Homo sapiens: one gene and its partners. The protein of the gene in region 2 interacts with the protein of the main gene of each other region in a pairwise test. Each region holds a gene or a part of one and is shown on either strand. Other genes may lie near its edges. The genes, in order: KYNU, PIP4K2B and TRPV2.

The links.
Region 1: the proteins of PIP4K2B (region 2) and KYNU interact in binary tests that used the Homo sapiens proteins (3 or more experiments, as listed by UniProt).
Region 3: the proteins of PIP4K2B (region 2) and TRPV2 interact in a protein complementation assay, tested with the Homo sapiens proteins (one study listed by IntAct).

The regions. Positions count from the first base shown.
Region 1 is NC_000002.12:143,046,959-143,057,332, forward strand, and holds the end of KYNU (kynureninase), read left to right. Parts: 3' UTR 1-8,875; downstream 8,876-10,374. UniProt on the Homo sapiens protein: Catalyzes the cleavage of L-kynurenine (L-Kyn) and L-3-hydroxykynurenine (L-3OHKyn) into anthranilic acid (AA) and 3-hydroxyanthranilic acid (3-OHAA), respectively. Has a preference for the L-3-hydroxy form. Also has cysteine-conjugate-beta-lyase activity.
Region 2 is NC_000017.11:38,794,665-38,805,410, reverse strand, and holds the start of PIP4K2B (phosphatidylinositol 5-phosphate 4-kinase type-2 beta), read left to right. Parts: upstream 1-5,854; 5' UTR 5,855-5,986; coding exon 5,987-6,145; intron 6,146-10,746. Other genes in the region: pre-mRNA-splicing factor CWC25 homolog, read left to right, coding at 2,550-2,711, 3,205-3,319. UniProt on the Homo sapiens protein: Participates in the biosynthesis of phosphatidylinositol 4,5-bisphosphate. Preferentially utilizes GTP, rather than ATP, for PI(5)P phosphorylation and its activity reflects changes in direct proportion to the physiological GTP concentration.
Region 3 is NC_000017.11:16,430,865-16,439,171, forward strand, and holds the end of TRPV2 (transient receptor potential cation channel subfamily V member 2), read left to right. Parts: intron 1-919; coding exon 920-986; intron 987-1,101; coding exon 1,102-1,436; intron 1,437-2,709; coding exon 2,710-2,834; intron 2,835-4,025; coding exon 4,026-4,105; coding exon of another isoform or gene 4,106-4,113; exon of another isoform or gene 4,114-4,117; intron 4,118-5,924; coding exon 5,925-6,025; 3' UTR 6,026-6,139; downstream 6,140-8,307. UniProt on the Homo sapiens protein: Calcium-permeable, non-selective cation channel with an outward rectification. Seems to be regulated, at least in part, by IGF1, PDGF and neuropeptide head activator. May transduce physical stimuli in mast cells.

The DNA of each region.
Region 1 (10,374 bases), on a different chromosome or scaffold from region 2:
CTTTAATGCTTCTCAAAATTTTTTATTTTCTCTATTATGGAAACGCACATTTATAGTTTGACAAATTCCTAAGTACTTCTAATTTTATTGTCATTCCACATTATCTTTTTTGTTGTTGTTTTAAAAGACAGGGTCTCCCTCTGTCACCCAGGCTGGAGTGTACTGATGTGATTATAGCTCACTGCAGTCTCAACCTCCTGGGCTCAAGTGATCCTCCCACGTCAGCCTGTGGAGTAGCTAGGACTACAGGCATGTGCCACAATGCCTGGCTCATTTTTAAGTGTTAAGTTAAAAAAAGTTGTAGAAACAGTGTTTTGCTACATTTCCCAGGCTGGTCTCAAACTCCTGGCCCCAAGCAATCTTCCTGCCTCAGCTTCCCATATTCGGATTATACGCATGAGGCATTGCACCAGCCCCATGTGTTATCTTTTATAAAATTTAACATTTAACTGATAATTGATACTGTATATACATGAATTCAATTGGTATCTATTTTTAATATGGGAAATTTTATGCAAATGAGCACATTTTTCTCCCTTCCTTCCTTCCTTCTTTCCTTGTTCTCTTTCTTTCTCTCTCTTTCTCTTTCTCTCTTTCTTTCTTTCTTTCTTTCTCACAGGGTGTCACTCTGTTGCCCAGGCGGAGTGCAGTGGCACATGATCATAGCTCACTGCAACCTCCAACTCAAACACTTGAGTGATCCTCTGTCCCCCGTTTCCCAAGCAGCTGGGACTACAGGCACATGCCACGATGCCAAGCTAATTTTTAAAAATAATTTTTTTTGTAGATTCAGAGTCTTGCTATGTTGCCCAGGCTAATCTCAAACTCCTGGCCTCAAGCAGTCCTCCCTCCTCAGCCTCCCATTACAGGCATAAGCTGCCACTCCTGGACCTCTTTTTTTTTTTTTTTTTTTTTTTTTTGAGGCAGTCTCTCTCTGTCACCCAGGCTGGAGTATAGTGGCACGATCTCAGCTCACTGCGGGTTCAAGCAATTTTCATGCCTCAGCCTCCCAAGTAGCTGGGATTACAGGCATGGGCCACTATGCCCAGCTAATTTTTGTATTTTTCATAGAGACAGGATTTCACCATGTTGGCTAGGCTGGTATCAAACTCCTGACTTCAGGTGATCCGCCCACTTTGACCTTCCAAAATGCTGGGATTACGTGTGAGCCACCAAACCCAGCCCCTCATTTTCTTTTTGATTTTTATTTATTTTCCTCTGTTTTTCTTCTTTTGGATTTAGGGATGTGTGTGTGGAGGTGTATTGAGTCCGTTTTTTCTTTCTATTTGTGTGGAAATTATACACTTATTCTTTGTTATTTTAGCAATTACTCTGGCTATTTTAACATGCAAATATAATGAAGTTTAGAATTAGCCATTTTTTATAACTCTCCTTCTGACTAGTTGAAGAAATGAGAATGCTTTAACATCAAACAGCCAACTCTTTACTTATACACTATTGCTATTCATTATAGCATTTTTAGTCTAGCTTCCTCCCTCCTCTTTCTCTCTCTCTCTCTCTGTCTCTCTCTCTCTCACTAATGTTTGCTATTTCTCCCTACAATTCAGAATTTTATTTATGGATGAAGTACATATATAATTTATTACAATTCATTTTAATGAAAAACTTTTAGTGGTAAATTGTATTAGTCTTTGGGAAAAAACATTTATTGATACCATTTTCTCATTACTTAAAAATAGTTTCACTTCATATAGAATTCTATGTCGACAGTAATTTTCTTTCAGGAAGTAGAAAATATTAAGTTACAGTATTTTGGCTTCCATTACTGCTGTTAAGCATTCAGATCATCAGAGAAATGCAAATCAGAACCACAATGAGATGCCATCTCATGCCAGTCAGAATGGCAATCATTAAAAAGTCAGGAAACAATAGATGCTGGTGAGGCTGTGGAGAAATAAGAATGCTTTTACACTGTTAGTGGGAATGTAAATTAGTTCAACCATTGCTCTTAAGGGCTCTTTGTCTTTAATGATCCGCATTTTTATTATGATGTGTCTAGGCAGTTATTATTGTGTTTATTCTATTTCTTTATTTGCTGTCTATCCAAGATTTGAGGATTAATTTTTTAATTTCTAGAAAATTCAGAAGTATTATTTATTTATTCAATTATTACCTCTTTCTATTATTTCCTTTTTAAAATAAAAGGGTATATGTTAGAATTTTTCACTCTCTCCTTTATGCCTTTAACTTCATATTTTCTATTTCTTTGAATTTCTGGGCTGCATTCTTAAGAATTCTAAAACATATATTTTAGTTTCTAAAAGTTTCATTAGATTTCTGTTCAAAATTCCTTCCATTTGTGATCTTTCGAATGTGCTTCTGCTTTAGGCATTAGTAGTGGACATTCTGGTTCCCCATTGAGCTTCCCTGCATCAGCTGTTTTGCCTGGTGGCTGCCACCAACGCTTTTAGCTACCTCCCTCCTCAAACTTTGGGGTCAGGCCACACACTATAAAGGATTGGAAAAAAAAATGAAAATATGAAAAACTTACACTTTGTATCAGTCAGGAGAAGGATAATCTTCACACTACAGTTTATGCTTCAGAAGCCACCCCTTCTCTGTGGATTAGACCATGACTAGAAGTTTCCTGAGACCATCCCTTGCCCAGCTCTTTTGGTGATCCCCTTCACTTCCTCTGTTACAGGTTTCCCTGATGAGCACTCCTTCAATAAAACATAGTCATCCAAATCCCAATCTCAAGCACGGTGTCACGGGAACCTGATCTAAGTCAGCATTTTCTTTATTCTTAATCACAACTAGTTGATAGTCCATATCTAATATATAATGAATGTACAGTTGTTTCTGTTGGAGTTCACATATGATGCCTTGTTTCCTTTGTAGTTTTGTGATTGATAGCTTCGAACTGCTCATTTACCTTGACCTTTTGAATTCTTTGAAAACTGAGTTAAGTCTGATTTTCCAGAGTTTTTATGTTTGCTTCTGTCAGTTGCAGAGAATCAATGAGAAGAACACTTTAAATTCTTGTTTTCGGTTTTTTTCCAATCACATAAGTAGGATTTACCTGAATATATATATAATATATAAACATATATTTATATAAAATAAAAACATATAAAATATGAAATATATAATACAGTATAAAATCTATTTTATGTAAAATCTATTTTATGTAAACATGATAATTAAATATATATTTAAATAATATAAATATAATAAATATTTGAAGCAATTGTATTTTTTAAAAATTTCTTCTAAAGAAAACCAGGATACATGTGCAGAACCTGCAGGTTTGTTACATAGGTATACGTGTGCCATGGTGGTTTGCTGCACCTATTGACCCGTCCTCTAAGTTCCCTCCCCTCACCTCCCACCCCCCAGCAGGCCCTGGTGTGTGTTGTTCCCCTCTCTGTGTCCATGTATTCTCGCCTCCCACTTATGAGTGAGAACACGCGATGTTTGGTTTTCTGTTCCTGTGTTAATTTGCTGAGGATGATAGCTTCCAGCTTCATCCACGTCCCTGCAAAGGACATGATCTCATTCCTCAATACTATGGCTACGTAGTATTCCATGGTGTATATATACCACATTTTCTTCATCCAGTCATGCAAATTTATATGAATGTCAATTCTTTTATAGTGATCTTCTGGGGCTATTACAATATATAGGGCTGTTTTTTTAAAACTAATTATATTTATTTCATGTTGCTTTAACTTATTAAAAAACAGACTGAAGAAAGACTGGGTGTGAAGTCAGTAAATTAATTTCAAATTAAATAAACTTTTCTACAGCTATTTTATGCTCAATAACTTTCTACTTATTCTTGAGTTCAAAACTATATGGGTTCACATTTAAATTATATAGTGTATTTTCTCCATAAACTGAAGTTGTTAGAACATTGATTTTTTTAAGTAAATGGATTTTTGCACCACTTCAAGAAAGAAACCTTCAAACAGCCTGGAAATATCACATCAATAAAGCACAACCTGGGAATCAAAGTATTAGGGTACCTTGTTACTGAGATTATGGATGTGATGCTTCTGTGGGCCATTAGCATGTGCACTGTGTGTATGATATGCTCTATGTTCTCTTCCCACTAATAATTTTATTTTTAATTTCAGCAAGATTTAGTCTCAAATAACACAATAATAATGGAGGTCATTGTGAAGTAGTGGATGTAAATAGATCTGATGTGGTTTTGGTTTATTGCAGTAATTGTTTTGACTAATTCTCTAGTTTTTCAACTTTTGATTGTTTAAGATGGTTCTTGAGTCCTTTTGACATGACCCTATCTATTTTTGATAACTTCATAGCCTTTAGTATAAAAACAGGTAGGCTTATATTACATATTTCCAACTTCAAACTTGTTATTTATTTATCTAAGACTATACAGTTCTTTTCAGAGAAAAACCTTCTTTATAAACCAGAATCTTAACAGGAAGAGTGCTCATTTTAATTGAGCTGATCATGTTTCTAGGATTTTTTAGTTAAAAGAAAATACATATTTTAAAAATATAAATTATATTTTTATTTCATAGTGGTATTTTCAATTTTGTCTGGGATAATAAGATGTTTTATTTAACTTGTTTGATTTTGTAGTTTTATCTTTGTGGGAAGGACCTGGTAAGAGGTAATTGAATCATGGGGGCAGGACTTTCCCATGATGTTCTCATGATAATGAATAAGTTTCATGAGATCTGTTGGTTTCATAATGTGGAGTTTCCCTGCAAAGGCTCTTGTCCTGTCTGTGCCATTTGAGACATGCCTTTCAACTTCTGCCCTGATTGTGAGGCCTCCCCCGCCATGTGGAATTGGGTCTTACTTTTGTAAATTGCCCAGTCTCAGGTATGTCTTTATCAGCAGCCTGAAAACTGACTAATATAGTAAGTTGGCACCAGTAGAGAGGGGCACTGCTGAAAAGGTACCCGAATATGTGGAAGCAACTTTAAACTGGGTAACAGGCAGAGGTTGGAATGGTTTGGAGGGCTCATAAGAAGACAGGAAAGTGTGGGAAATTTGGAACTCCCTAGAGACTTGTTGAATGGCTTTAACCAAAATGCTGATAATAATATGAACAATGAAGTCCAGGCTGAGGTGGTCTCAGACAAAGATAAGGAACTTCTTGGGAACTGGAGCAAAGGTGACTCTTGTTATGTTTTAGACATAAAGCAAAGAGACTGGAGGCATTTTGCCCCTGCCCTAGAGATTTGTGGGACATTAAACTTGAGACAGATTATTTAGGGTATCTGGAGGAAGAAATTTTTATGCAGCAAAGCATTCAAGAGGTGACTTGGTTGCTATTAAAGGCATTCAGTTTTAAAAGGGAAATACAGCATAAAAGTTCAGAAAATTTTCAGCCTGACAATGCAGTAGAAAAGGAAAACCAATTTTCTGAGGAGAAATTTAAGCTGGCTGCAGACATTTACATAAGTAACAAGAAGCTGAATGTTAATCACTAAGACAATGAGGAAAATGTCTCCAGGGCATGTCAGAGACCTTTGTGGCAGCCCCTCCCATCACAGACCAGGAGCTTTAGAAGGAAAAATGGCTTCGTGGGCTGGTCACAGGGTCCCTCTGCTGTGTGCAGTCTAGGGACTTGGTGCCCTGTGTCCCAGCAGCTCCATCCATGACTAAAAGGGGCCAAGGTACAGCTTGGGCTGTGGCTTCAGAGGGTGGAAGCCCCAAGTCTTGGCAGCTTCCATATGGTGTTGAGCCTGGGTTCACAGAAGTCAAGAACTGAGGTTTGGGAACTTACACCAAGATTTCAGAGGATGTATGGAAATGCCTGGATGCCCAGGCAGAAGTTTGCTGCAGGGGCAAGGCCCTCATGGAGAACCTCTGCTAGGGCAGTGAAGAAGGGAAAAGTATGGTGGGAGCCCCCATACAGAGTCCCTACTGAGGCACCACCTAGTGGAGCTTTGAGAAGAGGGCCACTGTCCTCCAGAACTCAGGATGGTAAATCCACCACGCACCTGGAAAAGCTGCAGACAATTCCAGCCTGTTAAAGCAGCCAGGAGGGGGCTATACCCTGCAAAGCCACAGGGGCGGACCTGCTCAAGGCTGTGGGAGACCACCTCTTGCATCAGTGTGACCTGGATGTGAGACATGGAGTCAAAGGAGATCATTTTGGAGCTTTAAGATTTGACTGCCCCACTGGATTTCAGACTTTCATGGGGCCTGTAGCCCCTTCGTTTTGGCCAATGCCTCCCATTTGGAGTGGCTGTATTTACCCAATGCCTGTATCCCCATTGTATCTAGGAAGTAACTAACTTGCTTTTGATTTTACAGGCCCATAGGTGGAAGGGCGATGTTTCTTTCTGGAGGCTCCAGGGAGAACTCTGTTTTCTTACCTTTTCTGGATTCTAGAGGCTTCCCACAATCCTTGGCTTAAGGTCCATCTTTAAGCTTTGTCTCTGATGAGACTTTGGACTGCGGACTTTTGAGTTAATGCTGAAATGAGTTAAGACTTTGGGTGACTGTTGCGAAGACATGATTGGTTTTGAAATGTGAGAACATTTAAGAGGGGCCAGGGGCAGAATGATATGGTTTGACTTTGTCCGCAGTCAAATCTCATCTTGAATTTCTATGTGTTTGGAGAGGTACCCGGTGGGAGGTAATTGAATCATGAGGGCAGGTCTTTTCTGTGCTGTTCTCATGATGGTGAGTAAGTCTCATGAGATCTGATGGTTTTATAAAGGGGAGTTTCCCTGCCCAAGTTCTTCTCTTGTCTGCCATCATGTGCGATGTGCCTTTCACCTCTGCCATGATTATGAGGCCTCCCTGGCCATGTGGAACTGTGAGTCCATTAAACCTCTTTCTTTTGTAAATTGCCCAATCTTGGGAATGTCTTTATCAGCAGTGGGAAAACGGATTAATATACTAATTTATAGCTAGTAGGTAAAAAGCCAGGGACTTGCCATTAGCGTTGGAAGTGGGGTTGTGGGGGCAGTCTTGTGGAACTGAGCCCTTAACCTGTGGGGTTGAATGATATCTCCAGGTATATCATGTCAGAATTGAATTCAATTAGAGGATACCTAGCTTGCGTTCAATGCAGAATTGCTTGCTGGTGAGGAGAAATCCCTATACACATTTTGGTGACCAGAGGTAAAGCATTTTATGTTGATTCTTGAGTGAGAGAGTAGAAATAACACTGGTTTTTTCCCTATGTCCTTACAACCACCAATTGGATACATTGTTTCAGTATTTTGAAATTTTTCATTTAATTTTTATAAATTTTCTTTTTAAATTTTAGATTCTACAATATCTCCAATTCTTCAGTTTATTCCCTCTTACTATGTATAAGTATTTCCCCAAGTTTCACTTTATCTTTCTATTACTTTTTTTACATAATAGAGCTATAAAGGCAATTCACAATTCTCTCTTTTCTCATATATAATATAGAGCATATTATAAATACTCTACTTTGGAAAATTATTCTTTATAGGAAATTACAGATAATATTTGATGAAGAAAATCGAATATAATCATTTTTCAATACTTAGGATAACAGATTCAGGCAAAGATAAAACATTAAAGGAAAAGTTAGTGAAAACTATTAATATATAGTGGAGGCATCACGTTGTTATGAACTTCATTGATCAATACTGATACCACTAAAAATGGAACAACATGTAATTATGTGCTCAATGTGATGAATATGAAGTAGACTGCACCACTCTGCAGTACAGTCAGGAAATAAGAAACCAAGTCCAATCAAAATAGCCCTAAAGCTACCTTCCAGTTTATAAAAAGTATGAAGAATAGAGGGGCAATTAAATGATACCATAAAGAGTCAAATACAGGGCATGCAACATAGCTGCTGATTGGATTTATTCAACATGTCAGTGGCATGAATACAATAGGAGGCAGGTAGGGAGAAGGCACTACCCTGAATTATGAGACTGAAGAGATATAATAAACAAATGCAATGTGTGGACTTGGTTGGGATCTTCATTCAAAGACCAACTATAAAAAGACATTGTTGTGAGAATTGAGGAAATTTGAATGAGAAATGTATTTTTATCTAATTTGTTAGCTGTGATAATAGTATTGTGGGAGTAAGAAGCTATTCATATTTCTATATATATATACCAAGTACATAGGAGTGAAATAATACAAAATCTGGAATTTGCCTTAAAATTCCTCTGCAAAATTATAAAAAAGAACGATGACAAACTAAAAAGGTGTAGTATTCTTCTATGGCTGCTATAACAAATGACCAAAAAACATAGTGACTGAAAATAACCCACATTTATTATCTTACAGTTCCATAGGTTAGAAGTTCAACATGGGTCTCATGAGATCAAAAGCAAGGCCTTGGCAGGGTGACGTTTCTTTCTGGAGGTTCCAGGGGGAACTCTGTTTTCTTACTTTTTTTAGATTCTAGAGGCTTCCCACAATCCTTGGCTTAAGGTCCATCTTTAAAGACAGCAACGTTTCATCTCTCTACCTATTCTTTCATCCTTACATCTTTCTCTAACTATTCCTTTTCTTCTGTCTTCCACTTTTAAGAGCCTTTTTGAGTCTATTGAGGCCAACTGGACAATCAAGGATTATCTCCCTATGTTAAGGTCAATTGATTAGTGACCTAATTCCATCTACAATCACAATTCCTCTTTGCCATATAATGTAAAATATTCATACCTCTAAGGATTAGGACATGGACATCTTTGAGGGTCATTAGTCATCTTACCACAGGAAGGAAGGAAGGAAGGAAGGAAGGAAGGAAGGAAGGAAGGAAGGAAGGAAAGGGAGGAGAGGAGAGGAGAGGTAGGAGGGAAGAAGAAAAAAATAGTATGAAAAAATCTTGATAAATTTGAAAACTGGGTGAATAATATGTGGAATTCTCTCTATTTTTGTTAATGTTGGAAAATTTAATAAAAACAATGAACAGTGATGACTTCGGTGAGAATTTATGTCACCTGCCTCAAAATTTATGACTTCAATAACACCTTGTATGTAATATTTTTCACCATATATTCTGATGTTGGAAACAATCCCTTCTGCCTTTGTATTAGTCCATTCTCACACTGCTATGAAAAATACCTGAGACTGGGTAATTTATAAACAAAAGAGATTTAATTGACTCACAGTTCTGCATGGCTGGGGAGGCCTCAGGAAACTTACAATTATGGCAGAAGGTGAAGCAGGCGCCTTCTTCACAAGGTGGCAGGAGAGAGAAGAAAGGAAAAGTAAAGGGAGAAGAGACCCTACAAAACCTTCAGCTCTTGTGAGAACTCACTATCACAAGAACAGCATGGGGGAAATCATCTCCATGATCCAATCACTTTCCACTAGGCCTCTCCCTTGACATGTGGGTATTATAATTCAAGATAAGATTTGAATGGGGACACAAAGACAAACCATATTATTCCACACCTGACCAAATCTCTGGTCTTCACTTTTCAAAATCATGCCTTCGCAACTGTCCCCCAAAGTCTTAACTTGTTCCAGCATGAACTCAAAAGTCCAAGTCCAAAGTGTCATCTGAGACAAGGCAAGATCCTTCTGCCTATGAGCCTGTAAAATCAAAACCAAGTTAGTTATTTCCAGGATACAATGGGGGTACAGGCATTGGATAAGTGCTCCCATTTTAAATGGGAGAAATTGGCCAAAACAAAGGGGCCGGAGGCCCCATGCAATTTTGAAATTCAACAGGGCAGTCATTAAATCTTAGAGCTCCAAAATTATCTTCTTTGATTCCATGTCTCACATTTGGGTCAAGCTGATGCCAGAGGGGGGCTCCCATAGTATTGGGCAGCTCCAACCCTGTGGCTTTGCAGTGTACAGTTCCCCTCCCAGCTGCTTTCCCAGGCTGGCATTGCGAGTCTGCAGCAATTCGAGGTGCATGGTACAAGCTGTCAGTGGATCTCCCATTCTGGGGTCTGGAAGATGGTGGTCCTCTTCTCACAGCTCCACTAGGCAGTTCCCCAGTGGGAACTCCATGTGGGGGCTCCAACTCCACATTTCGCCTTTGCACTGCCCTAGCAGGTGTTCTCCATGAGGGCTTCGTCCATGTAGCAGACTTCTGCCTGGACACCCAGGCATTTCCATACATCCTTTGAAATGTAGGTGGAGGCTCCCAAACCTCAATTCTTGACCTCTGTGCACCCGCAGGCCTAACACCATGTGGAAGTTGCCAAGGCTTGGGGCTTGTACCTTCTGAAGCAATGGTCTGAGCTGTACCTTGGCCCCTTTCAATCACACGTGCTGGGATGCAGGGCACCAAGTCCCAAGGCTGCACAGAGCCTAGGCCCAGCCCAGGAAATAATTTCTTCCTCCTAGGCCTCTGGGCATGTGATGGGAGGGGCTGCCATGAAGGTCTCTGACATGTCCTGGAGACATTTTCCCCTTTGGTCCTGGTGATCAACATTCGGCTCCTCGTTACTTATGCAA
Region 2 (10,746 bases):
AAGGCAACTACTTTCAGCTTTTTCAGTAGTTTCTTTTCATAGCTACATATTCCTAAAAATACAAATATGTTGCTGCCTCTTCATCCATTAATTTTAGATATTAGATATTTTCTTTTTTCTTTCTTTGTTTTTTTTGGAGACAGCATCTTGTTGTATCTCCCAGGCTGGAGTGCAGTGCCACAATCTTGGCTCACTACAACCTCTGCCTCCGGGGTTCAAGTGATTCTCCTGTCCCAGCCTCCCGAGTAGCTGGGACTACAGGCACATGTTGTCACGCCCAGCTAATTTTTTTTTTTTTTTTCTGAGATGGAGTTTCATTCTTGTTGCCCAGGCTGGAGTGCAATGGCCCAATCTCGGCTCACCACAACTTCCGCCTCCTGGGCCCAAGTGATTCTCCTGCCTCAGCCTCCTAGGTAGCTGGGATTACAGGCATGTGCCACCACACCCAGCTAATTTTTGTATTTTTAGTAGAGACAGGCTTTCTCCATGTTGGTCAGGCTGGTCTCGAACTCCCAACCTCAGGTGATCTGCCTGCCTCGGCCTCCCAGAGTGCTGGGATTACAGGCGTGAGCCACCACGCCCGGGCTTCCTTTTTTTTTTTTTTTTTTTTTGTCTCGCTCTGTCGCCCAGGCTGCAGCGCAGTGGCACGATCTCGGCTCACTGCAACCTCTGCCTCCCGGGTTCCAGCGATTCTCCTGCCTCAGCCTCCCGAGTAGCTGGGACTACAGGCGCATGCCACCATGCCCAGCTAATTTTTGTATATTTTAGTAGAGATGGGGTTTCACCATATTGGTCAGGCTGGTCTTGAACTCCTGAGGTCAGGTGATCTGCCCGCCTCAGCCTCCCAAAGTGTTCGGATTACAGGCATGAGCCACAGCACCTGGCCCTAATTTTTGTATTTTTAATATAGATGGGGTTTCAATGTGTTGTCCAGGCTGGTCTGGAACTCCTGAGCTCAGGCAATCCACCTGCCTTGGCCTCCCAAAGTGTTAGGATTACAGGTGTGAGCCACCGTGCCCGGCCAGATCTTAGATATTTTCTTACTGTTATAGTAAATAATCTGTTAGTGTAAATGAGCTCTCATACACTCCTAGTCCCATGTTTCTTCTATCCCTATCTTTCCAATATGGTTACATCAGAATTTTTGGTTCAGTGAGTATGTGGATTCATACTTGTATGATATATAAATATTGTTTACTGATACTTTTCATTCCTAAGCCAAGCAGAATATGGAGGTTACATTTCCTTTCTTGTATGATTTGTATATTTTTTCCTAGTGTCAGTATTTGCTTCCTGCAATCTAAACCATGTCTTTGAGTTCTAGGAAATTTTCTTGTATTATTTCTTTGATAACTTCTTTCTTCTCCCTACAAGGTCTCACTCTGTTGCCTAGGTTGGAGTGCAGTGGGGCGATCATGGCTTACTGCAGCCTCACACTCCCAGGTTCAACTGATCCTCCTACCTCAGCCTTCCAAATAGTTGGGGCTACACGGGTGCCACCATGCCCAACTAATTAAAAAAAAATTTTTTTTTTGCAGAGATGGGAGGTCTCACTTTGTTGCCTAGGCTGGTCTTGAACTCTTGGACTCAAGCAATCCTCCTGCCTAAGCCTCCCAAAGTGCTGGGATTACGGGCTAGAGCCACTGTGCCTGGCAATCGTTTTTGTTTTTTTTTTTTAAGCCTCCTACTCTCATTTGAATGCTCTAATATCTTTCATTTATTATCTGAAGCAGATTTTTAATAGTAAATTGTTTTTCGTTTGGAGGTTTTTATTTTTTTTTGAGACAGAGACTCACTCTGTCACCCAGGCTGGAGTGCAGTGGTGCGATCTTGGCTCACTGCAACCTCCGCCTCCTCGGTTCAAGCGATTCTCCTGCCTCAGCCTCCCAAGTAGCTGGGATTACAGGCACACACCACCACACCCAGCTTATTTTTGTAATTTTAGTAGAGACAGGGTTTCCCCATGTTGGCCAGGCTGGTCTCGAACTCCTGACGTCAGGTGATCTGCCCGCCTTGGCCTCCCAAAGTGCTGGGATTACAGGCGTGAGCCACCATGCCTGGCCCTATTTATTATTTTCTGAGGCTAAGTTATTCCTTCAGCTTCTGGCTTCTAGCTTAGTCCTAAAGTAGTGTACTCATGGGCTGTGTCATGAATTTCTAGTCTCCAATGGGTAGTTAGATGGTAGATGTTAACAGTTACATGGATAACCTAGTCTTCTGTTCTTCTGTCAATTGTTGAGCAAACCATTGGGATATAATTGCTACAAGTTTAGGTTCCTGATGAGTTCCCAATTTATTTCATATTTCATATTTCAGAATAATCACTCTAGAGATTACTGAGTGAGATTATGGAATACTTTACTAAAAGCCTTTGAAATTTGGATGAAACCTCCTGACCAGGACGTTAGAAGGGAACTCAGGCTGGCCTTGCACTTGGAGAGAGCAGTGAACTGGAGAGCTTGGGGTCCCACCTGGCTTCTGTGCTTCTTGTGCTGCTTCTGGTTTTTTTGCTGGAAGAGACCTGATCGTATGGTTTCTGTGCTCAACAGAAAACTCTCTGCAGAGGAATTAGAGCGAAAACGGCAAGAGATGATGGAAAACGCCAAATGGAGGGAGGAGGAGAGACTGAACATCCTCAAGAGGCATGCTAAGGATGAGGAACGGGAGCAGAGGCTAGAGAAGCTGGACTCCCGGGATGGGAAGTTCATCCAGTGAGTGCATCTTCTTCCTGCCAGGGTCTTTCATGGGGAAGGTCTTAAGAGGCAGGCTGGCAGCTGGTTCCCGTTCCAGTGTTTCTGTGTTTGCACATGGAGCCCAGCCTTCAGACCACCTTGGCTACTACTCTTCCTTTCTGACCACACAGTGGGATGTTTTTCATTTGAGGGGAGGAGAAGTGAATTTGGTATTTTCTAAATCATTGAAATTCCTTGACCTTCCTTTTTAATAAGAATTCATGGCCCAGGAAGCCTTTTTCCAATGAGGCTTTGACTTATTTTCCAAAACAGATACATTTTCCCTTATGGACACTGGTTTAAAAACATTTGGTTCCAGGTGGAGTCACTCGAAAGTTATCTATGGGAGCTTAAAAGAGGTTGTGTTTTTACAGCTGCTCTATGGCTAACAACCCATTTCTTCTGAAGCTGCCAGAATAGTTGACTGATTGAAAATGTTTTTGACTTGCATTTGCCTGTCTTCTCTTCCTAGCCGCATGAAGCTGGAGAGTGCATCTACTTCCTCCCTGGAGGATCGGGTGAAGCGGAATATCTACTCTTTACAGAGAACTTCGGTAGCTCTGGAGAAGAACTTTATGAAAAGATGAAAACTGTCCCCTCTCTTATTGGTTTTCCTGCATTTTCCAGGGAAGCTGCTGACCCCTTAATTCTCTTTATAAGAGTTCAAATGACTTCTTTCACAGATGTCAAACCACCAGTGTTCAAAGTGACCCTGCTTCATTGAGTCCTGAAACAGCTCACTTCCTTTGAGAGCTAGTGTGACTTGCTTTGTGGGACACTCAGTAACTTTGGGTTTTGACTCTTTAACGGGTGGGCACTGGACCATCTCGGTGGGAGTGCTTGTGCCACTCTGGAAGGCTGTTCCCTGGGGTTGTGATGTTTATCATGCCACTTCCTTCTTACCTGTGCCAACAGACCTATTTCACTGCCTCAGCGTACACCAGACCCTTCAGAAACCTCTCTGGTGTCACCCAGATAGATTGTGCTTACTGAGACAAATGAACGTTTACTTGATTTAGAAGATAATGTGACAGAATGATGTCAGGTTAGGTCAAAGCCAAGGGAGTGACAGAATCTGGAAAATCAAACAATACAAAAAGCCCTAAATGAACTGTTAACTATTTGATCTTTGGATGTAAAATTGTAATGCGTATATGTACAAATGTACAATTTTTACATGCTTTTAAAAAAGGTTAGCTTTGTGAAAATACCTTGTTTGGTCAATGACTTTACTGGGTAATAGAACCACATTGAACCTTGATGGCAAGTAATACAATAAGGCAGGCCAGCTCGTTTTTCTCTCTGAATCTGGCTGGTTTAGGAGGAGCCTGGGTTTATCGACGAGATCTGGAGTATCTATTCTTTTCCACTGCTTGCAGTCTCCAATGTAGGCAGTGTAAAGGTATAGTAAAATGATTTTAGGAGTCAGAACCAAATTGCCAATATGCTCCATGGCTCCTAAAGGAAAATAAAATGGAAGTTTTTATTTTGCGGCTTCACTTCTTACCGTGTAGTAACCTTACTACAATTACAGATTTTCAGGAGTTGTTTGCTAGTCTCTTTCAGTCAGGTACTAAAAAAAAAACAAAAAACAGGCTGGGCGCGGTGGCTCACACCTGTAATCTCAGCACTTTGGGAGGCTGAGGTGGGCGGATCACGAGGTCAGGAGATCGAGACCATCCTGGCGAACACGGTGAAACCCCGTCTCTACTAAAAAAATACAAAAAATTAGCCGGGCGTGGTGGCGGGCGCCTGTAGTCCCAGCTACTCGGGAGGCTGAGGCAGGAGAATGGCGTGAACCCAGGAGGCGGAGCTTGCAGTGAGCCGAGATTGTGCCACCGCACTCCAGCCTGGGTGACAGAGCGAGATTCCGTCTCAAAAAACAACAGCAACAAAACAAAACCCTCGAGGGGCCACTCTCCTGTCTTTACTCCTTTTCCCTTCTCTATTCTTTCACCAGAAGCCCTCATTTGACCAGTGAACTCCTAGGCCCTCTTGACCCGCACATTAGCTGGGCGATTTCCTTGTTCTGCTAATTCCTAATTCTGCTTAAAATGTATTTGGATTTCTGTTTTTGAACACTTATGATGCCAGGCACTGTAATGCTTGAAACCCGATCTTTCCCTAGAGAATGTAACATACGTTTTTATTCATTTAATCACTTCATTATGCCGGGGTTAATTATGTTTATTTTATAATTGGTAATAAAGGCCACATTTATTTTTGTAACTGTTTAAAGAGCGACCACCTGTGGAGTACCGTGTTTACGAATTTCCATGCAGAAAGAACAACGTTGACCTGTAATTTGTGTCGAATATATGGAGATCCCTCATCTGAGAATTATGTAACAAAGCGTGGGGCAGTTTACTCAAAGATTTTACGAAATGAGCCAGAGTAAGACGATTAGTGGGATAGGTGTCTGAAGGTGCTGGCGGCCTCTGAGCTCTGACCCTTTGCGGGGAGAACAGGCAGCAGGTGGGTGGGCGCGGGGCCCATTCATAAAAACCAGTGTTCCTGGCCTGCTTCTCTCATTGGCCCTGGGGGCAAGGGGCGTGCCCCGCGGGTGGAGCGCGCCCGGGGCCCAGCAGAGTGGGCAGATCCACGCTTAGGTGGAGCGAGGGGGCGTTCCTTGGCTTTCTAGGCTGGACTTTCTCTTCCCCTTGCTGCGTCCCTCCTCTCCCCCGGGGTGGGCATGGTACGTCCCGCCCTCCTCGCATTCCCGTCCCTCCTTCCCTTCCGGAGCGGTGGCATCGCCGCCATCTTGGCATTCGGGTTGCGGGAAAGAGCCAAACCCTGGCGTTGGGGGGCCCGGGCGGGGAGCCCCTCCCGCGGTCCACAGCGACGCCTGCCCAGCCCTCCTCCCCTTCCGGCTCCGGCACGGGGCCCCGAGGCGTTCGGAGGCCAGGCGGGTTTCTGTCAGGCCCGGGGAGGAGGGGCGGGCGGGGCGGCCGCTGCCTCCCCGGGACGGGCCGTACCACGCGGACGGGGAGGACGGGGCCAGGGGACTGCAGGGCGGCTGCACCGCCCGGGGGCGGGGTGCGGAGCGGGCCGGCGGGCTCCCCGGGGCGGGGCGGGAGGGCGGGGCGTGGGGCGGACGGAACCACCGGGGCGGGGTGGGAGGTAACGGGACGGGCGCGACCATGGCGCGGTGAGGGAGCGGGGGTGGGGATCGGTCCGGGGGAGGCCTGAGGCCGCTGGCTTGTGCGCTGTCTCCGCCGCCCCCCTCTTTCGCCGCCGCCGCCGCCGCCCCGGGCATGTCGTCCAACTGCACCAGCACCACGGCGGTGGCGGTGGCGCCGCTCAGCGCCAGCAAGACCAAGACCAAGAAGAAGCATTTCGTGTGCCAGAAAGTGAAGCTATTCCGGGCCAGCGAGCCGATCCTCAGCGTCCTGATGTGGGGGGTGAACCACACGGTAACCAGCTCCTGCGCGCCCCTCTGAGCGCGGCCCCGCGCGCTCCCACGCCCCCTGCAGCCCTGGGCCCTTGCCCCGCAGGCCCTGCCGGTGACGCCTGCCACCCCTCGCCAAGCCACTTGCACGCCCACCCCACCCTTGCACGCCTTTCGGCCCCGTGTGCACTCCCCGCACGCCACGCGAGGCCTGGTGTCTCTGTGGTCTGCCGTCGCCACCTCCCCTTCCCTCCAGCCCTTCTGGCTTCCTGCGTGTGGCGTGCTCGCTTGGGGCAGCCCATGGAGCGCAAAGGCAAGGCCTCAGTGCAGTGGAGTCGCTTTCATCCCTGCTTCTCCTCCTCCCCCCTCATCCTGTTTGTGAGGGTGTATATTCCCCCTTGTTCCTTACAGCCGGCTGCCAGCTCTGTCAAGTAGCAGTGGTCTGCCCAAATAGTCCTCTCTTTCTGATCGTTTGGTTGTTGTGGCTGCTCAAATTCTTCCATCCTCCAGGCCTCCTTACCTTTGAATGTAGAACTCCACCCTGGGTTTCCTTTTTTTTCCCTCTTGAACAAGATGTATCAACTGGAGAAGCACAGGCTTCCTTGAACCAGACACTTCACCTGGGTCTCTCTGGGTTAGGGAGAAGAAAGAATGGCTATTAACCATTTGAGAGAAGAGGATGCCTGGTTATAAGGAGGGACTATTCATAGTAGAAATAATATGTCTTCCCATAGTTTTTGAAGGTGATCATTTTAAAGATGTTGACTTATCTGTTGTGTGGCTGCAATGTTGTGATGATGCATAGTGATTATGGTCCTAGATAGGAGAGATAGGTCCCCTGGGTCCTTAGGGTGCTTTGAGATTGTTCAACAGCCCCTGCCAGGAAGTTGGATCCTGACAGTTTAAGCTGGAAGACTGTTTATGTGGTGTTTGTTCAGGGTCTTTATTCTCCCTCTTCCAACCACTTGCTCTTTGCCTTCTGACCATTTCTTTATGAATCCCCACACTAGGAATGAGCAGAGGAAGTAAAAGGACCCGAAACACCAACTTCACTAACTAGAATTTTGGAATAAGGAGGATCAAGCTTGGGTTTCCTGTGGATTTCAGTTCTTTAGGTTCACTTGTGAGTGCTTGAAATTGCTCACAAGACCAAGCGATGACAAAGAGGGCCAGCAAGACTTTGCATTGCTTTGGCAGAGGAGCTGAAGGTGCCTTTGGGTGGAGATCGATGAACCGTAATCTGAGCTAGGGTTTTAGATCTTGACCTGTCATTTAGGAAAGTGCATGTGTAAATTGAGGTCTCTGTGGTTTCTTGGTCTTGGGCAGGTTACTGTTTTCACTGTCATCACTGGTGTTAGTGAGGGTCCTGCCAGGATAGCGAGTACCAGTGGTATAATGCCCAGACCTCTAGGAGCTGCTTCGGGCCAACAATCCAGCCCAGTTTGTTACTCGGTCTTCCTGCTGTCCCAGGGGTCATCTGACAACATTTCTAGGGAAACTGGGTGATCAGAATATGAACCCCATGTCCCTTTCTGGAAGTCAATCCTTGATTTTGTTCTGCATCCTGCTTCTCACTCTACCAGGCCTCTCTCTGCTGGTTCTGTTTCTCACAGAAAGCAACCTGTCTGTAGAGAACTGGTAGAGGCCTGAGAGTCAGGAGTATTACAGCTAGCTGCAATGAACCTTGGGTCCCTTATTTTACACATGAAGAAAAGGAGGCCTCAGGTGGAGGATTAGCTTGCCTGTGGTTACAGCAAGAGATGTCGCTTATTGTCTAGCACCATGGGACTGTATCGGCCAAGGGTGGTGCCTGAGTGGCTGGTCTTGTTTTCTTTGCCTCCTGTTTCTTTTCCTCTCCCTCAGCCAAGTCTCAGGATAGATGCGAAGTATAGTCCGGTTAGAGAAGGTGAATATATGCTCTGGGTTATACGCCTATGCATGTCAGGTCCTGGGAGTGTGTGTGATGCATGGTGTTCCGATAGGCAGGCATGAGTCTGTCCATATGTGGTTATGAAGTTTCTCAATAGCTGATGGTTAGGTATCACGAGTCAGGAGTCCTGTGAGTCCTACTCTGTTGGACAAAGTGGTCATCTTTTTTCTTTGCTAACTTTAAGTTGAAAGTTTGTTTGAGGGGCTAGTTGGAAAGGCATTGACTTTAAGCAAGATCCGTGCCTCTGGACATAATGAACAGGCATCTCATGGGAACTTCCCACCACTGCCCTGGACAGGCTAAGCTTCAGAGGCCAGTTAGTCGTAAGTTTTATTGCTTCATCCTGGTCTGCAGTAAGGTCTGATACTTCAGTGTCCCCATTTGGGAACTGAGACATCTGCCTAGAAGAAGAGTGTAATCTTGCACTCGTCTAAGGGATCAGGACCACATTGCCCTCGGTGGACTGCTGCACTTTTTTGGAGATTTCCTCCCTTCAAAAAAAGCCTACTTTGTAACATTTTGTCATCTGAGATTTCAGATACCACCTTTTCTTTAGTTTCTCACCTGTTTAGGCATTTAGGCATGCTGGTCTGTGGCTAATGGTGTTTCAGATAGGAAGGATGGATATGTCTTTATCTACAGCAGAAGTTAGTTACCCTTTCATGAGGTGATTAGTTTACTTCTAGGTGGAAAAAGAGAGGACTTTGAACTTGGTGTTGTCACAGGAGCTGCTCTCATGGACAAGAGCCCATGGATTTTGTGGAGGAAGAATGTGTAGGAAACAAGGAGAAAAATCAGAAGACTTTGCACCTGTCAGGGAAGAACTAGTGAAGAGCAAAAACCAGTGTTTTAGTGGATGAAATACAGTTCCGAGGGTTTGGAATTAGGGAAGAGATGGCCTCAGAGAGGAGCATGGAGACCATGGGAGGTAGACCTGACTTGATACTTGTTGGCCATTTTAAGAACCAGGTATGTGTGAAGCCTTACCACAGGGATCAGAGGAGCAGGAGCAGTTGATGGTGACTCTGTATTTAACCATTTGAGAAACTGCCAAACTGTTCTCTAAAGTGGCTGTACCATTTTACATGTCTACCAGCAGTGTATAAGAGTTCCAGTATCTGCATCCTTGTCAACACTTGTTATTGTCTTTTTAAAGTTATTAAAGCCATTCTGTTGGGTGTGAATTCGTATCTCATTGTGATTTTGTTTGTTTGTTTGTTTTTGTGATGGAGTCTCACTCCGTCACCCAGGCTGGAGTGCAGTGGTGCAATCTCGGCTCACCGCAACCTCCACCTCCCGGGTTCAAGCAATTCTCCTGCTTCAGCCTCCTCAGTAGCTGGGATTACAGATGCCTGCCACCACACGTGGCTAATTTTTTTATTTTAGTAGAGACAAGGTTTCACCATGTCGGCCAGGCTTGTCTCAAACTCCTGACCTCAGGTGATCCACCTGCCTCGGCCTCCCAAAGTGCTGGGATTACAGGCATGAGCCATCGCACCCGGCCTCATTGTGACTTTGATTGGCATTTCTGTGATAACTAATGATGTTGAGCATTTTTTCATGTACTTACTGGCCATTTGTACATATTCTTTTCTTTTTTTTTTTTTCTTGAGACAGAGTCTTGCTCTGTCGCCCAGGCTGGAGTTTAGTGCCACAATCTCAGTTCACTGTAACCTCCGCCTCCTTGGTTCAAGCGATTCTCCTGCCTCAGCCTCCCAAGTACCTCGGATTACAGGTGCCTGCCACCACACCCAGCTAACTTTTGTATTCTTAGTAGATATGGAGTTTTACCATGTTGTCCAGGCTGATCTCAAACTCCTAACCTCAGGTGATCCACCTGCCTTGGCTTCCCAGAGTGCTGGGATTACAGGTGTGAGCCACTGTGCCTGGCCTGTACATTTTCTTTTTGTTGTTGTTGTAGAGACAGGGTCTCGCTTTGTTGCCGAGGCTGGTCCTGAACTCCTGGCCTCAAGTGGTCCTCCCGCCTTGGCCTCCCAAAGGACTGGGATTGCAGGCATGAGCCACATCCCCAGCCTTCATTGGTATCTTTTCTTTGGAGAATGTCTATTAAATTTTTTGCCCATTTACAAAGATCTTTTTGCCCATTATTAAATTGGGTTATCTTCTTATTATTGAGTTACAAGAATTCTTTTTATATTCTAGATACAGGTCCCTTATCAGATATATGATTTGCAAATATTTTATCCTATTCATTGAGTTGTCTTTTTCATTTTTCTTTTTTTTTTTTTTTTTTTTTTTTTGAGATGGAGTTTTGCTCTGTCGCCCTGGCTGGAGTGCAACGGTGTGATCTTGGCTCACTGCAACCTCTGCCTCCCGGGTTCAAGCGATTCTCCTGCCTCAGCCTCCTGAGTAACTGGGATTACAGGTGCCCGCCACCACACCAGGCTAATTTTTGTATTTTTAGTAGAGACAGGGTTTTGCCATGTTGGCCAGACTGGTCTCGAACTCCTGGCCTCAAGCAATCCCCCCGCCTCGGCCTCCCAAAGTGGTGGGATTACAGGCGTGAGCCACTGCACCTGGCCTGCCTTTTTCATTTTTCTTATGGTATCTTTTGAAGTTCAAGTTTTTAACTTTAATAAAGTCCAGTTTATCTTTTTTGTTGTTGTTGTGTGTGCTTTTGGTGTTATATCTAAGAAGACATTGCCTAACCCAAGGTCATGAAGATTTACTCCTTT
Region 3 (8,307 bases), about 22 Mb from region 2:
CAGTCACCTGTTGCTTCCACCTTTTGACCATTGTGAATAATGCTGCTACGAACAAGGGTGTAAAAGTATCTGTTAGAGTCCCTGCTTTCAATTCTTTTGGGCATATACATACCCAGAAGTGGAATTGCTGGGTCATACAGTAGTTCTATATTTTATTTTGTGACCCTGGAAGGTTTTTTTTTTTTGTTTTTTGTTTTTTGTTTTTTGAGATGGGACTCATTCAGTCACCCAGGCTGGAGTGCGGTGACACGATCATAGCTCATTGCCGCCTTGACATTCTGGGCTCAAGCAATCCTCCTGTCTCAGCCTCCTGAGTAGCTGGCACTGTAGGCTTGTGCCACCATGCCCAGCTACTGGAAAGTTTTAAGCAGGAAAACAATGTGATCTGAGACATATATATATATATATATATATATATATATACATATTTTTTTTTTTTTTTTTTTTGAGACGAAGTCTCACTCTGTAGCCCAGGCTGGAGTGCAGTGGTGTGATCTCGGCTCACCACAACCTCTGCCTCCTGGGTTCAAGTGATTCTCCTGCCTCAGCCTCCTGAGTAGCTGGGATTACAAGCACAGGCACACCACTGCACCTGGCTAATTTTTTGTATTTTTAGTAGAAACGCGGTTTCACCATGTTGGCCAGGCTGGTCTTGAACTCCCAACCTCAGGTAATCTGCCCGCCTCAGCCTCCCAAAGTGCTAGGATTATAGGCATGAGCCACCGCACCCAGCCAGATCTGAGATATATTTTTAAAAGACTCCTCTGCTCGGTGTGGCTCCACAGGCCCACATATGCATATGTATGTGTGCGTATGTGCAGTGTACACGGGAACCATGCTGCTGTGGGTGAGGCAGGGTTCTGGGGTCGTGACTGGTGGCCCAGCTACCCACCCTGGCCCCTGGGCACATGTGTTCCAGGTCATCCTGCGGGACCTGCTGCGCTTCCTTCTGATCTACTTAGTCTTCCTTTTCGGCTTCGCTGTAGGTAAAGGCTCCCTCCGGCCCCCTCCCCCTTCCCCACGTTCCTTGTCCACCCTGTACACTCCCAAGGCTGCCCACCGGTCTCCTGGGCTAAGGACCCCTCTCCCTTCATCCCATAGCCCTGGTGAGCCTGAGCCAGGAGGCTTGGCGCCCCGAAGCTCCTACAGGCCCCAATGCCACAGAGTCAGTGCAGCCCATGGAGGGACAGGAGGACGAGGGCAACGGGGCCCAGTACAGGGGTATCCTGGAAGCCTCCTTGGAGCTCTTCAAATTCACCATCGGCATGGGCGAGCTGGCCTTCCAGGAGCAGCTGCACTTCCGCGGCATGGTGCTGCTGCTGCTGCTGGCCTACGTGCTGCTCACCTACATCCTGCTGCTCAACATGCTCATCGCCCTCATGAGCGAGACCGTCAACAGTGTCGCCACTGACAGCTGGAGCATCTGGAAGCTGCAGGTGCCACCAGAGAGGCTCCCTGCCCCCACCCCACCCCACACTCAGGCGGTGGGGAGTGCTCCGGACCCTGCGGAGCTGGGCCTTCCCTAGCCAGGAGATGCCGGGTTGGGCAGCTCTACCTTGTCAGTCTTCCTCTTCCTTTTTTTTTTTTTTTTCTGGAGACAAGGTCTTGCTCTGTCACCCAGGCTGGAGTGCAGTGGCACGATCACAGCTCAATGCAGCCTCGGCCTCCTGAGCTCAAGTGATCCTCCTTCCTCAGCCTCCTGAGTAGCTGGGGTTACAGGCACCTGCCACCACACTTGGCTAATATTTTTATTTTTTGTAGAGAAGAAGGTCTCACTATGTTGCCCCGGCCTCAGGTGATCCTCCCACCTTTGCCTCCCAAAGTGCTGAGATTACTCCCACCTCCTTTAAGCTCATAGATGTACTTAGGACAGTGCCCAGCACCAAGCAGGTGCTCAATGTGCTACCAGCTACTCTTATCATCATTGCTGTCCAGTGTTTCTTTTTTTTTTTTTTTTGAGTCAAGAGTTTTGCTCTTGTTGCCCGGGCTGGAGTGCAATGGTGCAATCTTGGCTCACTGCCACCTTTGTCTCCTGGGTTCAAGCGATTCTCCTGCCTCAGCCTCCCAAGTACCTAGGATTACAGGCATGTGCCACCACACCCCACTAATTTTTTGTATTTAGTAGAGATAAGGTTTCACCATGTTGGTCAAGCTGGTCTTGAACTCCTGACCTCAGGTGATACACCTGCCTCGGCCTCCCAAAGTGCTGGCATTACAGGCATGAGCCACCATGCCCCACCCTGCTGCCAATTCATTGTTGATCTTGGGGAAGCCCCTTATCTCCTCTGAGCCTTGGTGCCCTCCTCTGCAAGGTTCTGTGCCCCACCTGACTCACTGGTGTGCCTCTGGGCAGGCACATGTGTGGGGTGAGCAAATGAAGTTCTGTTCCTGGTGGTGTGGCAATCTGGAGCCTGGAACGATGTAAGAGCAAGTAGCTGTCCAGTACTCATAAGGTACAGACTTCCCATCAGCTGTCTGAGGCACTTTGTCCTCAGTCTACAAATGGGGAAACTGAGATGCAGAGAGGCTGAGGGCCCAACCCCACACAGGTAACCGGATGTTGGAGCCAGATTCGAATCCGCGTGTTTAGTTGACTTCGCGTTATACTGTGAAGTGCTGCGCGGCACTTCCCTGCTCCGCTTGCCTTGTGTGCCTTTGCCCCCAGGCAGGGTCCCAGGACGTTCTGTCTGATGCATCCTTTGTCCCCAGAAAGCCATCTCTGTCCTGGAGATGGAGAATGGCTATTGGTGGTGCAGGAAGAAGCAGCGGGCAGGTGTGATGCTGACCGTTGGCACTAAGCCAGATGGCAGCCCCGATGAGCGCTGGTGCTTCAGGTGAGTGAGTGGTGGGAGGGTCTCCTGGGGGCCTTGCTGTCCAGCAATCCCTGGGGCCCCCCTGCAGTGCAGGGCACAGCTGCCAGGAGCCAGGTCTGGTGGGAAGGGCAGGCCCAAAGAGCACCAGGGACTGAGCCTGAGCAGGTGAGGTCAGGGGTCTGGATCTCACAAGCCATGGCTGCCACATGACTGGCCATCTGCCTGTCCCAGTGGCTTAAACTGAAGGTCCCCTCCTGGTGATCTCAGACTCCTCCTTGTAGCCTGAAATGTGTTACGGTAAGGAGGCCAAGAAGTCAGAGGGACCCTTGGGTTGCTAGCACTCTAGCATTGCCCTGGCTGCTCTGTGTCCCCCCACCCCCAATTCTGCCAGCCTGATCTCTGAGCTACAACCCCTTCCATGGAGAACATGCCCTTCTGTGTCCAGGAAAGGCTGGGACACTGGGAGAGGGAACCTAGTGACAAACACACAGCTAAAAACAGACACTGTCGGCCGGGTGCAGTGGCTCATGCCTGTAATCCCAGCACTTTGGGAGGCCGAGGCGGGCAAATCACGAGGTCAGGAGATCGAGACCATCCTGGCTAACACAGTGAAACCCCATCTCTACTAAAAATACAAAAAAGTAGCCGGGCGTGGTGGCGGGCGCCTGTAGTCCCAGCTACTCAGGAGGCCGACGCAGGAGAATGGCATGAACCTGGGAGGCGGAGCTTGCAGTGAGCTGAGATCGCACCACTGCACTCCAGCCTGGGCGACAGAGCGAGACTCCATCTCAAAAAAAAAAAAAAAAAGAAAACAACAGCAACAAAAAAAACAGACACTGTCGTGAGGCAGCAGATGAGCAGAGAGACGGAGTCTTGGGCATGAGGAGCAGCCATGATAGGCCCCAGAACCCGGAAGCACAGATACACCTGATCTGAATTCCTCTTCTCTGGTTGTTCTGGGCAACCCAGGCTGCTGTGAACAGCCAGAAGCGATGGATGCTGATTCCTGCAAGTGAGCACCTGCCTCACAGGACAGGGCTCCAAGTGGGTGGCCCAGAACCCTGCAGAGAAAAAGCCTGTCCTCCTCAGGGCCTCTGTGTCCACCAGAGCATCTCTGCATAGTCTCCCAATTTGGGGGGCCACGCCCCTCTCCGGGGTGGGAGGGGAGGCGGTCAAAGCAGGCAAACCTCAGAGCTGCTCTGTTGCCCTCAGGGTGGAGGAGGTGAACTGGGCTTCATGGGAGCAGACGCTGCCTACGCTGTGTGAGGACCCGTCAGGGGCAGGTGTCCCTCGTGAGTAGCCTGGTGACTAGAGCCTCTGCCCTGGGGTGTGTGTCTCTGCTGCTTGGCCACAAAGCCTTGGAGAGTCTGGGGCAGGACCCAGAGACCTCCTCATAGTCCCTTTGCAGATCCCCACATGCCAGCTCCTCTTAGAGGGATTGCCTCCTTAAAACAGTGGTTCCCTCCTTTCCTTTCCACCCACACCTTGCTTTCAGGCAGGAACCAGGGGAAACCTCTGAGGCTGTTAGCGCTTCCACCAGCCCAGCCTCTGGCTGCCCTCTCTCTGATGCCAGTCAGTCACACCCTTTGCCCATTCAATTGGTTATCGAGGGTCTGTCCCCAGCCAGGCCTGGGCTGAGCCTGGGGACTCAGCAGGGGAATAAGTTAGGAAGGGCTGTGTCACAGCGCAGCCTACAACAGAGGCAGCATCTCCCTGGACCCTCAGAGGAACTGCCCTGCATAGGCCCTTAGTCCCTTCACACCCCAAGTCCCCCACCTCTGAGAAACCACTTCCCATGCTTCCTCCATGTCCGTGGCCTGTGTCCTCTCCGTTCCAGTGTAGTGATGGCCCCTCCTGTCCCCACCCTGCTGCCTCCACCAAGACTGGTTCCTTCCTCCCACCCTCAGAGGCCTGTTCTGAGGATTAGCTGTCCCCACTGCATACCCTTTCTTTCTAGAACCTTCAATAGCTCCCACCTTCCACTGGTTCACCTCCTCTCCTTTCTCCATCTCTTTCCTGACAAATTTCACTTGCTTGTGCCTGTTGCCCCCCACAATAGCCTCCTGAGTCTCCCATGGCCCCTGTTGTAGGGAGGCTCCTCTGGCCTCTTCTGCCCCACAGCCTGCTGGTTTCCCAGGCTCCTGGGCCGTGACCACTGCCTCACATACAGATAGGTTTCCCTTCACCTTCTCTTTGCATCTCCCTCTCTTCACTACAATGCCAGGAAAGTCACCTCTGAAAGTCACCTTGTCCCTCCCTCATCTTGCCCCAAGCACTCCACACCCCACTGCCTGCTGGGGCCTCCAATGTGACATTCCCAACAGGAACAGCCTCGGGGCTGCCCCAGCAGGTCACATGTATGTCACCCCACCCCCTCCTCACCCAGGTGGAAGGCCTTGAGAGTCTCAGCCTATTCCCCCCGCTATACCAGCTCTCCCACCTGGAGCTGAGTGTCCTTGACCCCTCAGGCGGCCACTCATCCCTCTGCCCTGCCCTGCCTCTTACTTCTGCACCACTGCAGGGGGGCCCAGCCTGCACTCTTACCCATTGCAGTCCTGCTAATGTGGACAAAAACCACATGCAGCCCACGCTACACAATGCCTCCCACTACCTGGAAGGCCGCACTGCTCAGAATGGAGGTCAGGGCCCAAAGCTGTCTAACTCACTCCCCACACCTCCATCCACATGTCTGCAGTACTCCTTGTTCTTTGCTTTCCTTGGTTCATCTCTGGATTCGTCTCTGTCGGAAGTGCTCTTCCTCCCCTCTGGATGTCCAAATCTGCCACCGCCCCTGCAGGACAGGTCCCCTCTCTCCTCTGAGCTCCCCCAGCATGTCTCAGGTGTTCTGATCTCTGACACACAAGTCTGTCACCTCCAGGCACTTTAAGCTCCTGGGGGTGGCAGGGGCAGGGGGAAGCCCCTGATATGGCAGGGGATTGGGAAATGCTTGTGGAGTGAGGGAAGCAGGGAGAAGGATTGCTGGCCTCCAGGATCGCTGAGGCTGTCCCCACGGCATGACGTGTTTTCATGACTGTGGCCCCGTTTCCCTGGTGCCTGCTTCCTGGGGACACACTCAAGGGTTAAGCTACAGTGCTTGCCATCTGTTTACAGGAACTCTCGAGAACCCTGTCCTGGCTTCCCCTCCCAAGGAGGATGAGGATGGTGCCTCTGAGGAAAACTATGTGCCCGTCCAGCTCCTCCAGTCCAACTGATGGCCCAGATGCAGCAGGAGGCCAGAGGACAGAGCAGAGGATCTTTCCAACCACATCTGCTGGCTCTGGGGTCCCAGTGAATTCTGGTGGCAAATATATATTTTCACTAACTAACTCTTCTGGAAACATTATTTGGGCAGAGTTGCTGGGACCCTTAGAGCTGGCAATGTCTGCATGTCTCTGTGTGCACAGGTCTGTGTATGGGACTAGGTTGCTCCTGCCCTTGCCTGGGCACAGAGACCCTCAGTTGCTGTGTCCCCACCCTCACCCCCACATCCCCAAGTCTGGGGACTGTCCTCTTCCTGGGTACAGGCAGCTGGCTGAGGTGCTGTGCCCATTGTTGTGGCAGATATATGGTGATGGACATGGGCAAACAGCCACCTCTCCTCTCTCTCCACCACGACACCCTTTGCTTTCCACACCCACCCTGCTTTTGGGCAGGTACCTGGGAAAACCCATTAAAGCCACCTCTCTTGCTTTCTCTTCCTACCGAGCTTCTTGCTCAATTCCCACCCCTCCCAAGCCATTCTCTGCAGGGCAGCCAGAGGGCCTTCCTAAGACATAAGACAAACATGTCCTCTTTGTGCTCTGAAGGCCTGAGAGGCTCCCCAGTACCCACAGAATGCCCTAGCTGACATCCCGAGACCCCCACGGTTTTGCCCAAGCAGTTCCAGACACCTCCTCCCCTCCACCTCTGTTGCCCCTCCCTCCTTAGCACTCTCCCCAAATTCATGCAGGCCGAGAGACCTCGTGCTTGATCCCTTGACCTGGCTCTTGCTGGAAGCCCCCCTCCTCCATTAAAACCCTACACTTGGGGGTGGGGGGAGGGATAGCATTAGGAGATATACCTAATGTAAATGATGAGTTAATGGGTGCAGCATACCAACATGGCACATGTATACATATGTAACAAACCTGCACGTTGTGCACATGTACCCTAGAACTTAAAGTATAATAATAAAATAAAACCCTACACTTGCCGGGCGCCTGTAATCCCAGCACTCTGGGAGGCCCAGGCGGGCGGATCACCTGAGTTCAGGAGTTCGAAACCAGCCTGACCAACATGGAGAAACCCCGTCTCTACTAAAAATACAAAATTAGCCGGGCGTGGTGGCGCATGCCTGTAATCCCAGCTACTCGGGAGGCTGAGGCAGAAGAATCGCTTGAACCCGGGAGGCAGAGGTTGCGGTGAGCGGAGATCGCGCCATTGCAGTCCAGCCTGGGCAACAGGAGCGAAATTCCGTCTCAAAAAAACACAAAAACGAGCAACAACAACAACAACAACAAAAACCCTACACTTATTTCTGAGGCCAGCTCAAAAGGTCTTATGATTGTCTTCCCAGTTTTTTGCAGTCAAAATGAATTTCTTTCCCTTGGTATAACGTGTGTGTGCAAAACGTGGTTGCATGGATTCTTTTTCAAGGAGAGAGCTGAGCATGTTCATAGGCTGAAAGGAAAGCCACAGTAGAGAGAGTTTTCCATGGAAGGTGAGGCAGGGGCATAGGTGGAGGAGGCCCCAAGGAATGAGGAGAGGAAAGGAGGTGGGCAGAGCTTTACCCCAGAGGCGAGCAGAGGATGGACGTGGATCTAGATAAGACGTCAGCTCGTTCCCTAAAGGTCGTGCTAAAGGAGTAATGAGGGTGACCAGTGCGCAGGGGTTTGAGAAGCCCCGTGGATGTGGTGAAATAGCTGTGGGGAGAGTATTTGGCAACGCTCAATAGATTCAGGAGGAGCTACTAGGATGAATGGCTGCCTTGTGCCACAGCTCTACAGGCTTTCACGTGTGTCATCTCACGTGATCTTCTGGGGCGCTGGTGTCTCCGTTTACTAGAGGACCAATCGGAAGCTTAAAGAGAATGAGTAATTGGCCCAAGACCACCCAGCTAAGGAGTGGCGGAGGTGGGGCCCAAACGCGCGATCCAGCCCTCGCGCAGGCGCCCTGGAACTCCCCGCGCGTGTTGTGACCCAGAATTCCCGGGGCTGTGGAAGAGACCATAGACTCAACAGGAGGGGGAGTCCTGGGTAGCGCGCCGGTCTAAATCGTTACTTGGCGGAAAGTTCCCATGAGTCTTTGCCAGCGTCCCCCTCCTTTTGTGAGGATTGGGATATTCCGACTCCTTAAGGGCCTGGCGCACATAAGGTGTGACCTTTTCATTCCCGTTGTTATGGAGGTAGGCTCTCTAGGAATCTGGGAGTAGTAGCTGGGGGGCAAGAGCAAATAAAGAGCTCGAGCTTCTGTGGTCTCTGGGGAGATGTTCCCGGGAAGCCTGTCTAGAGGGCGG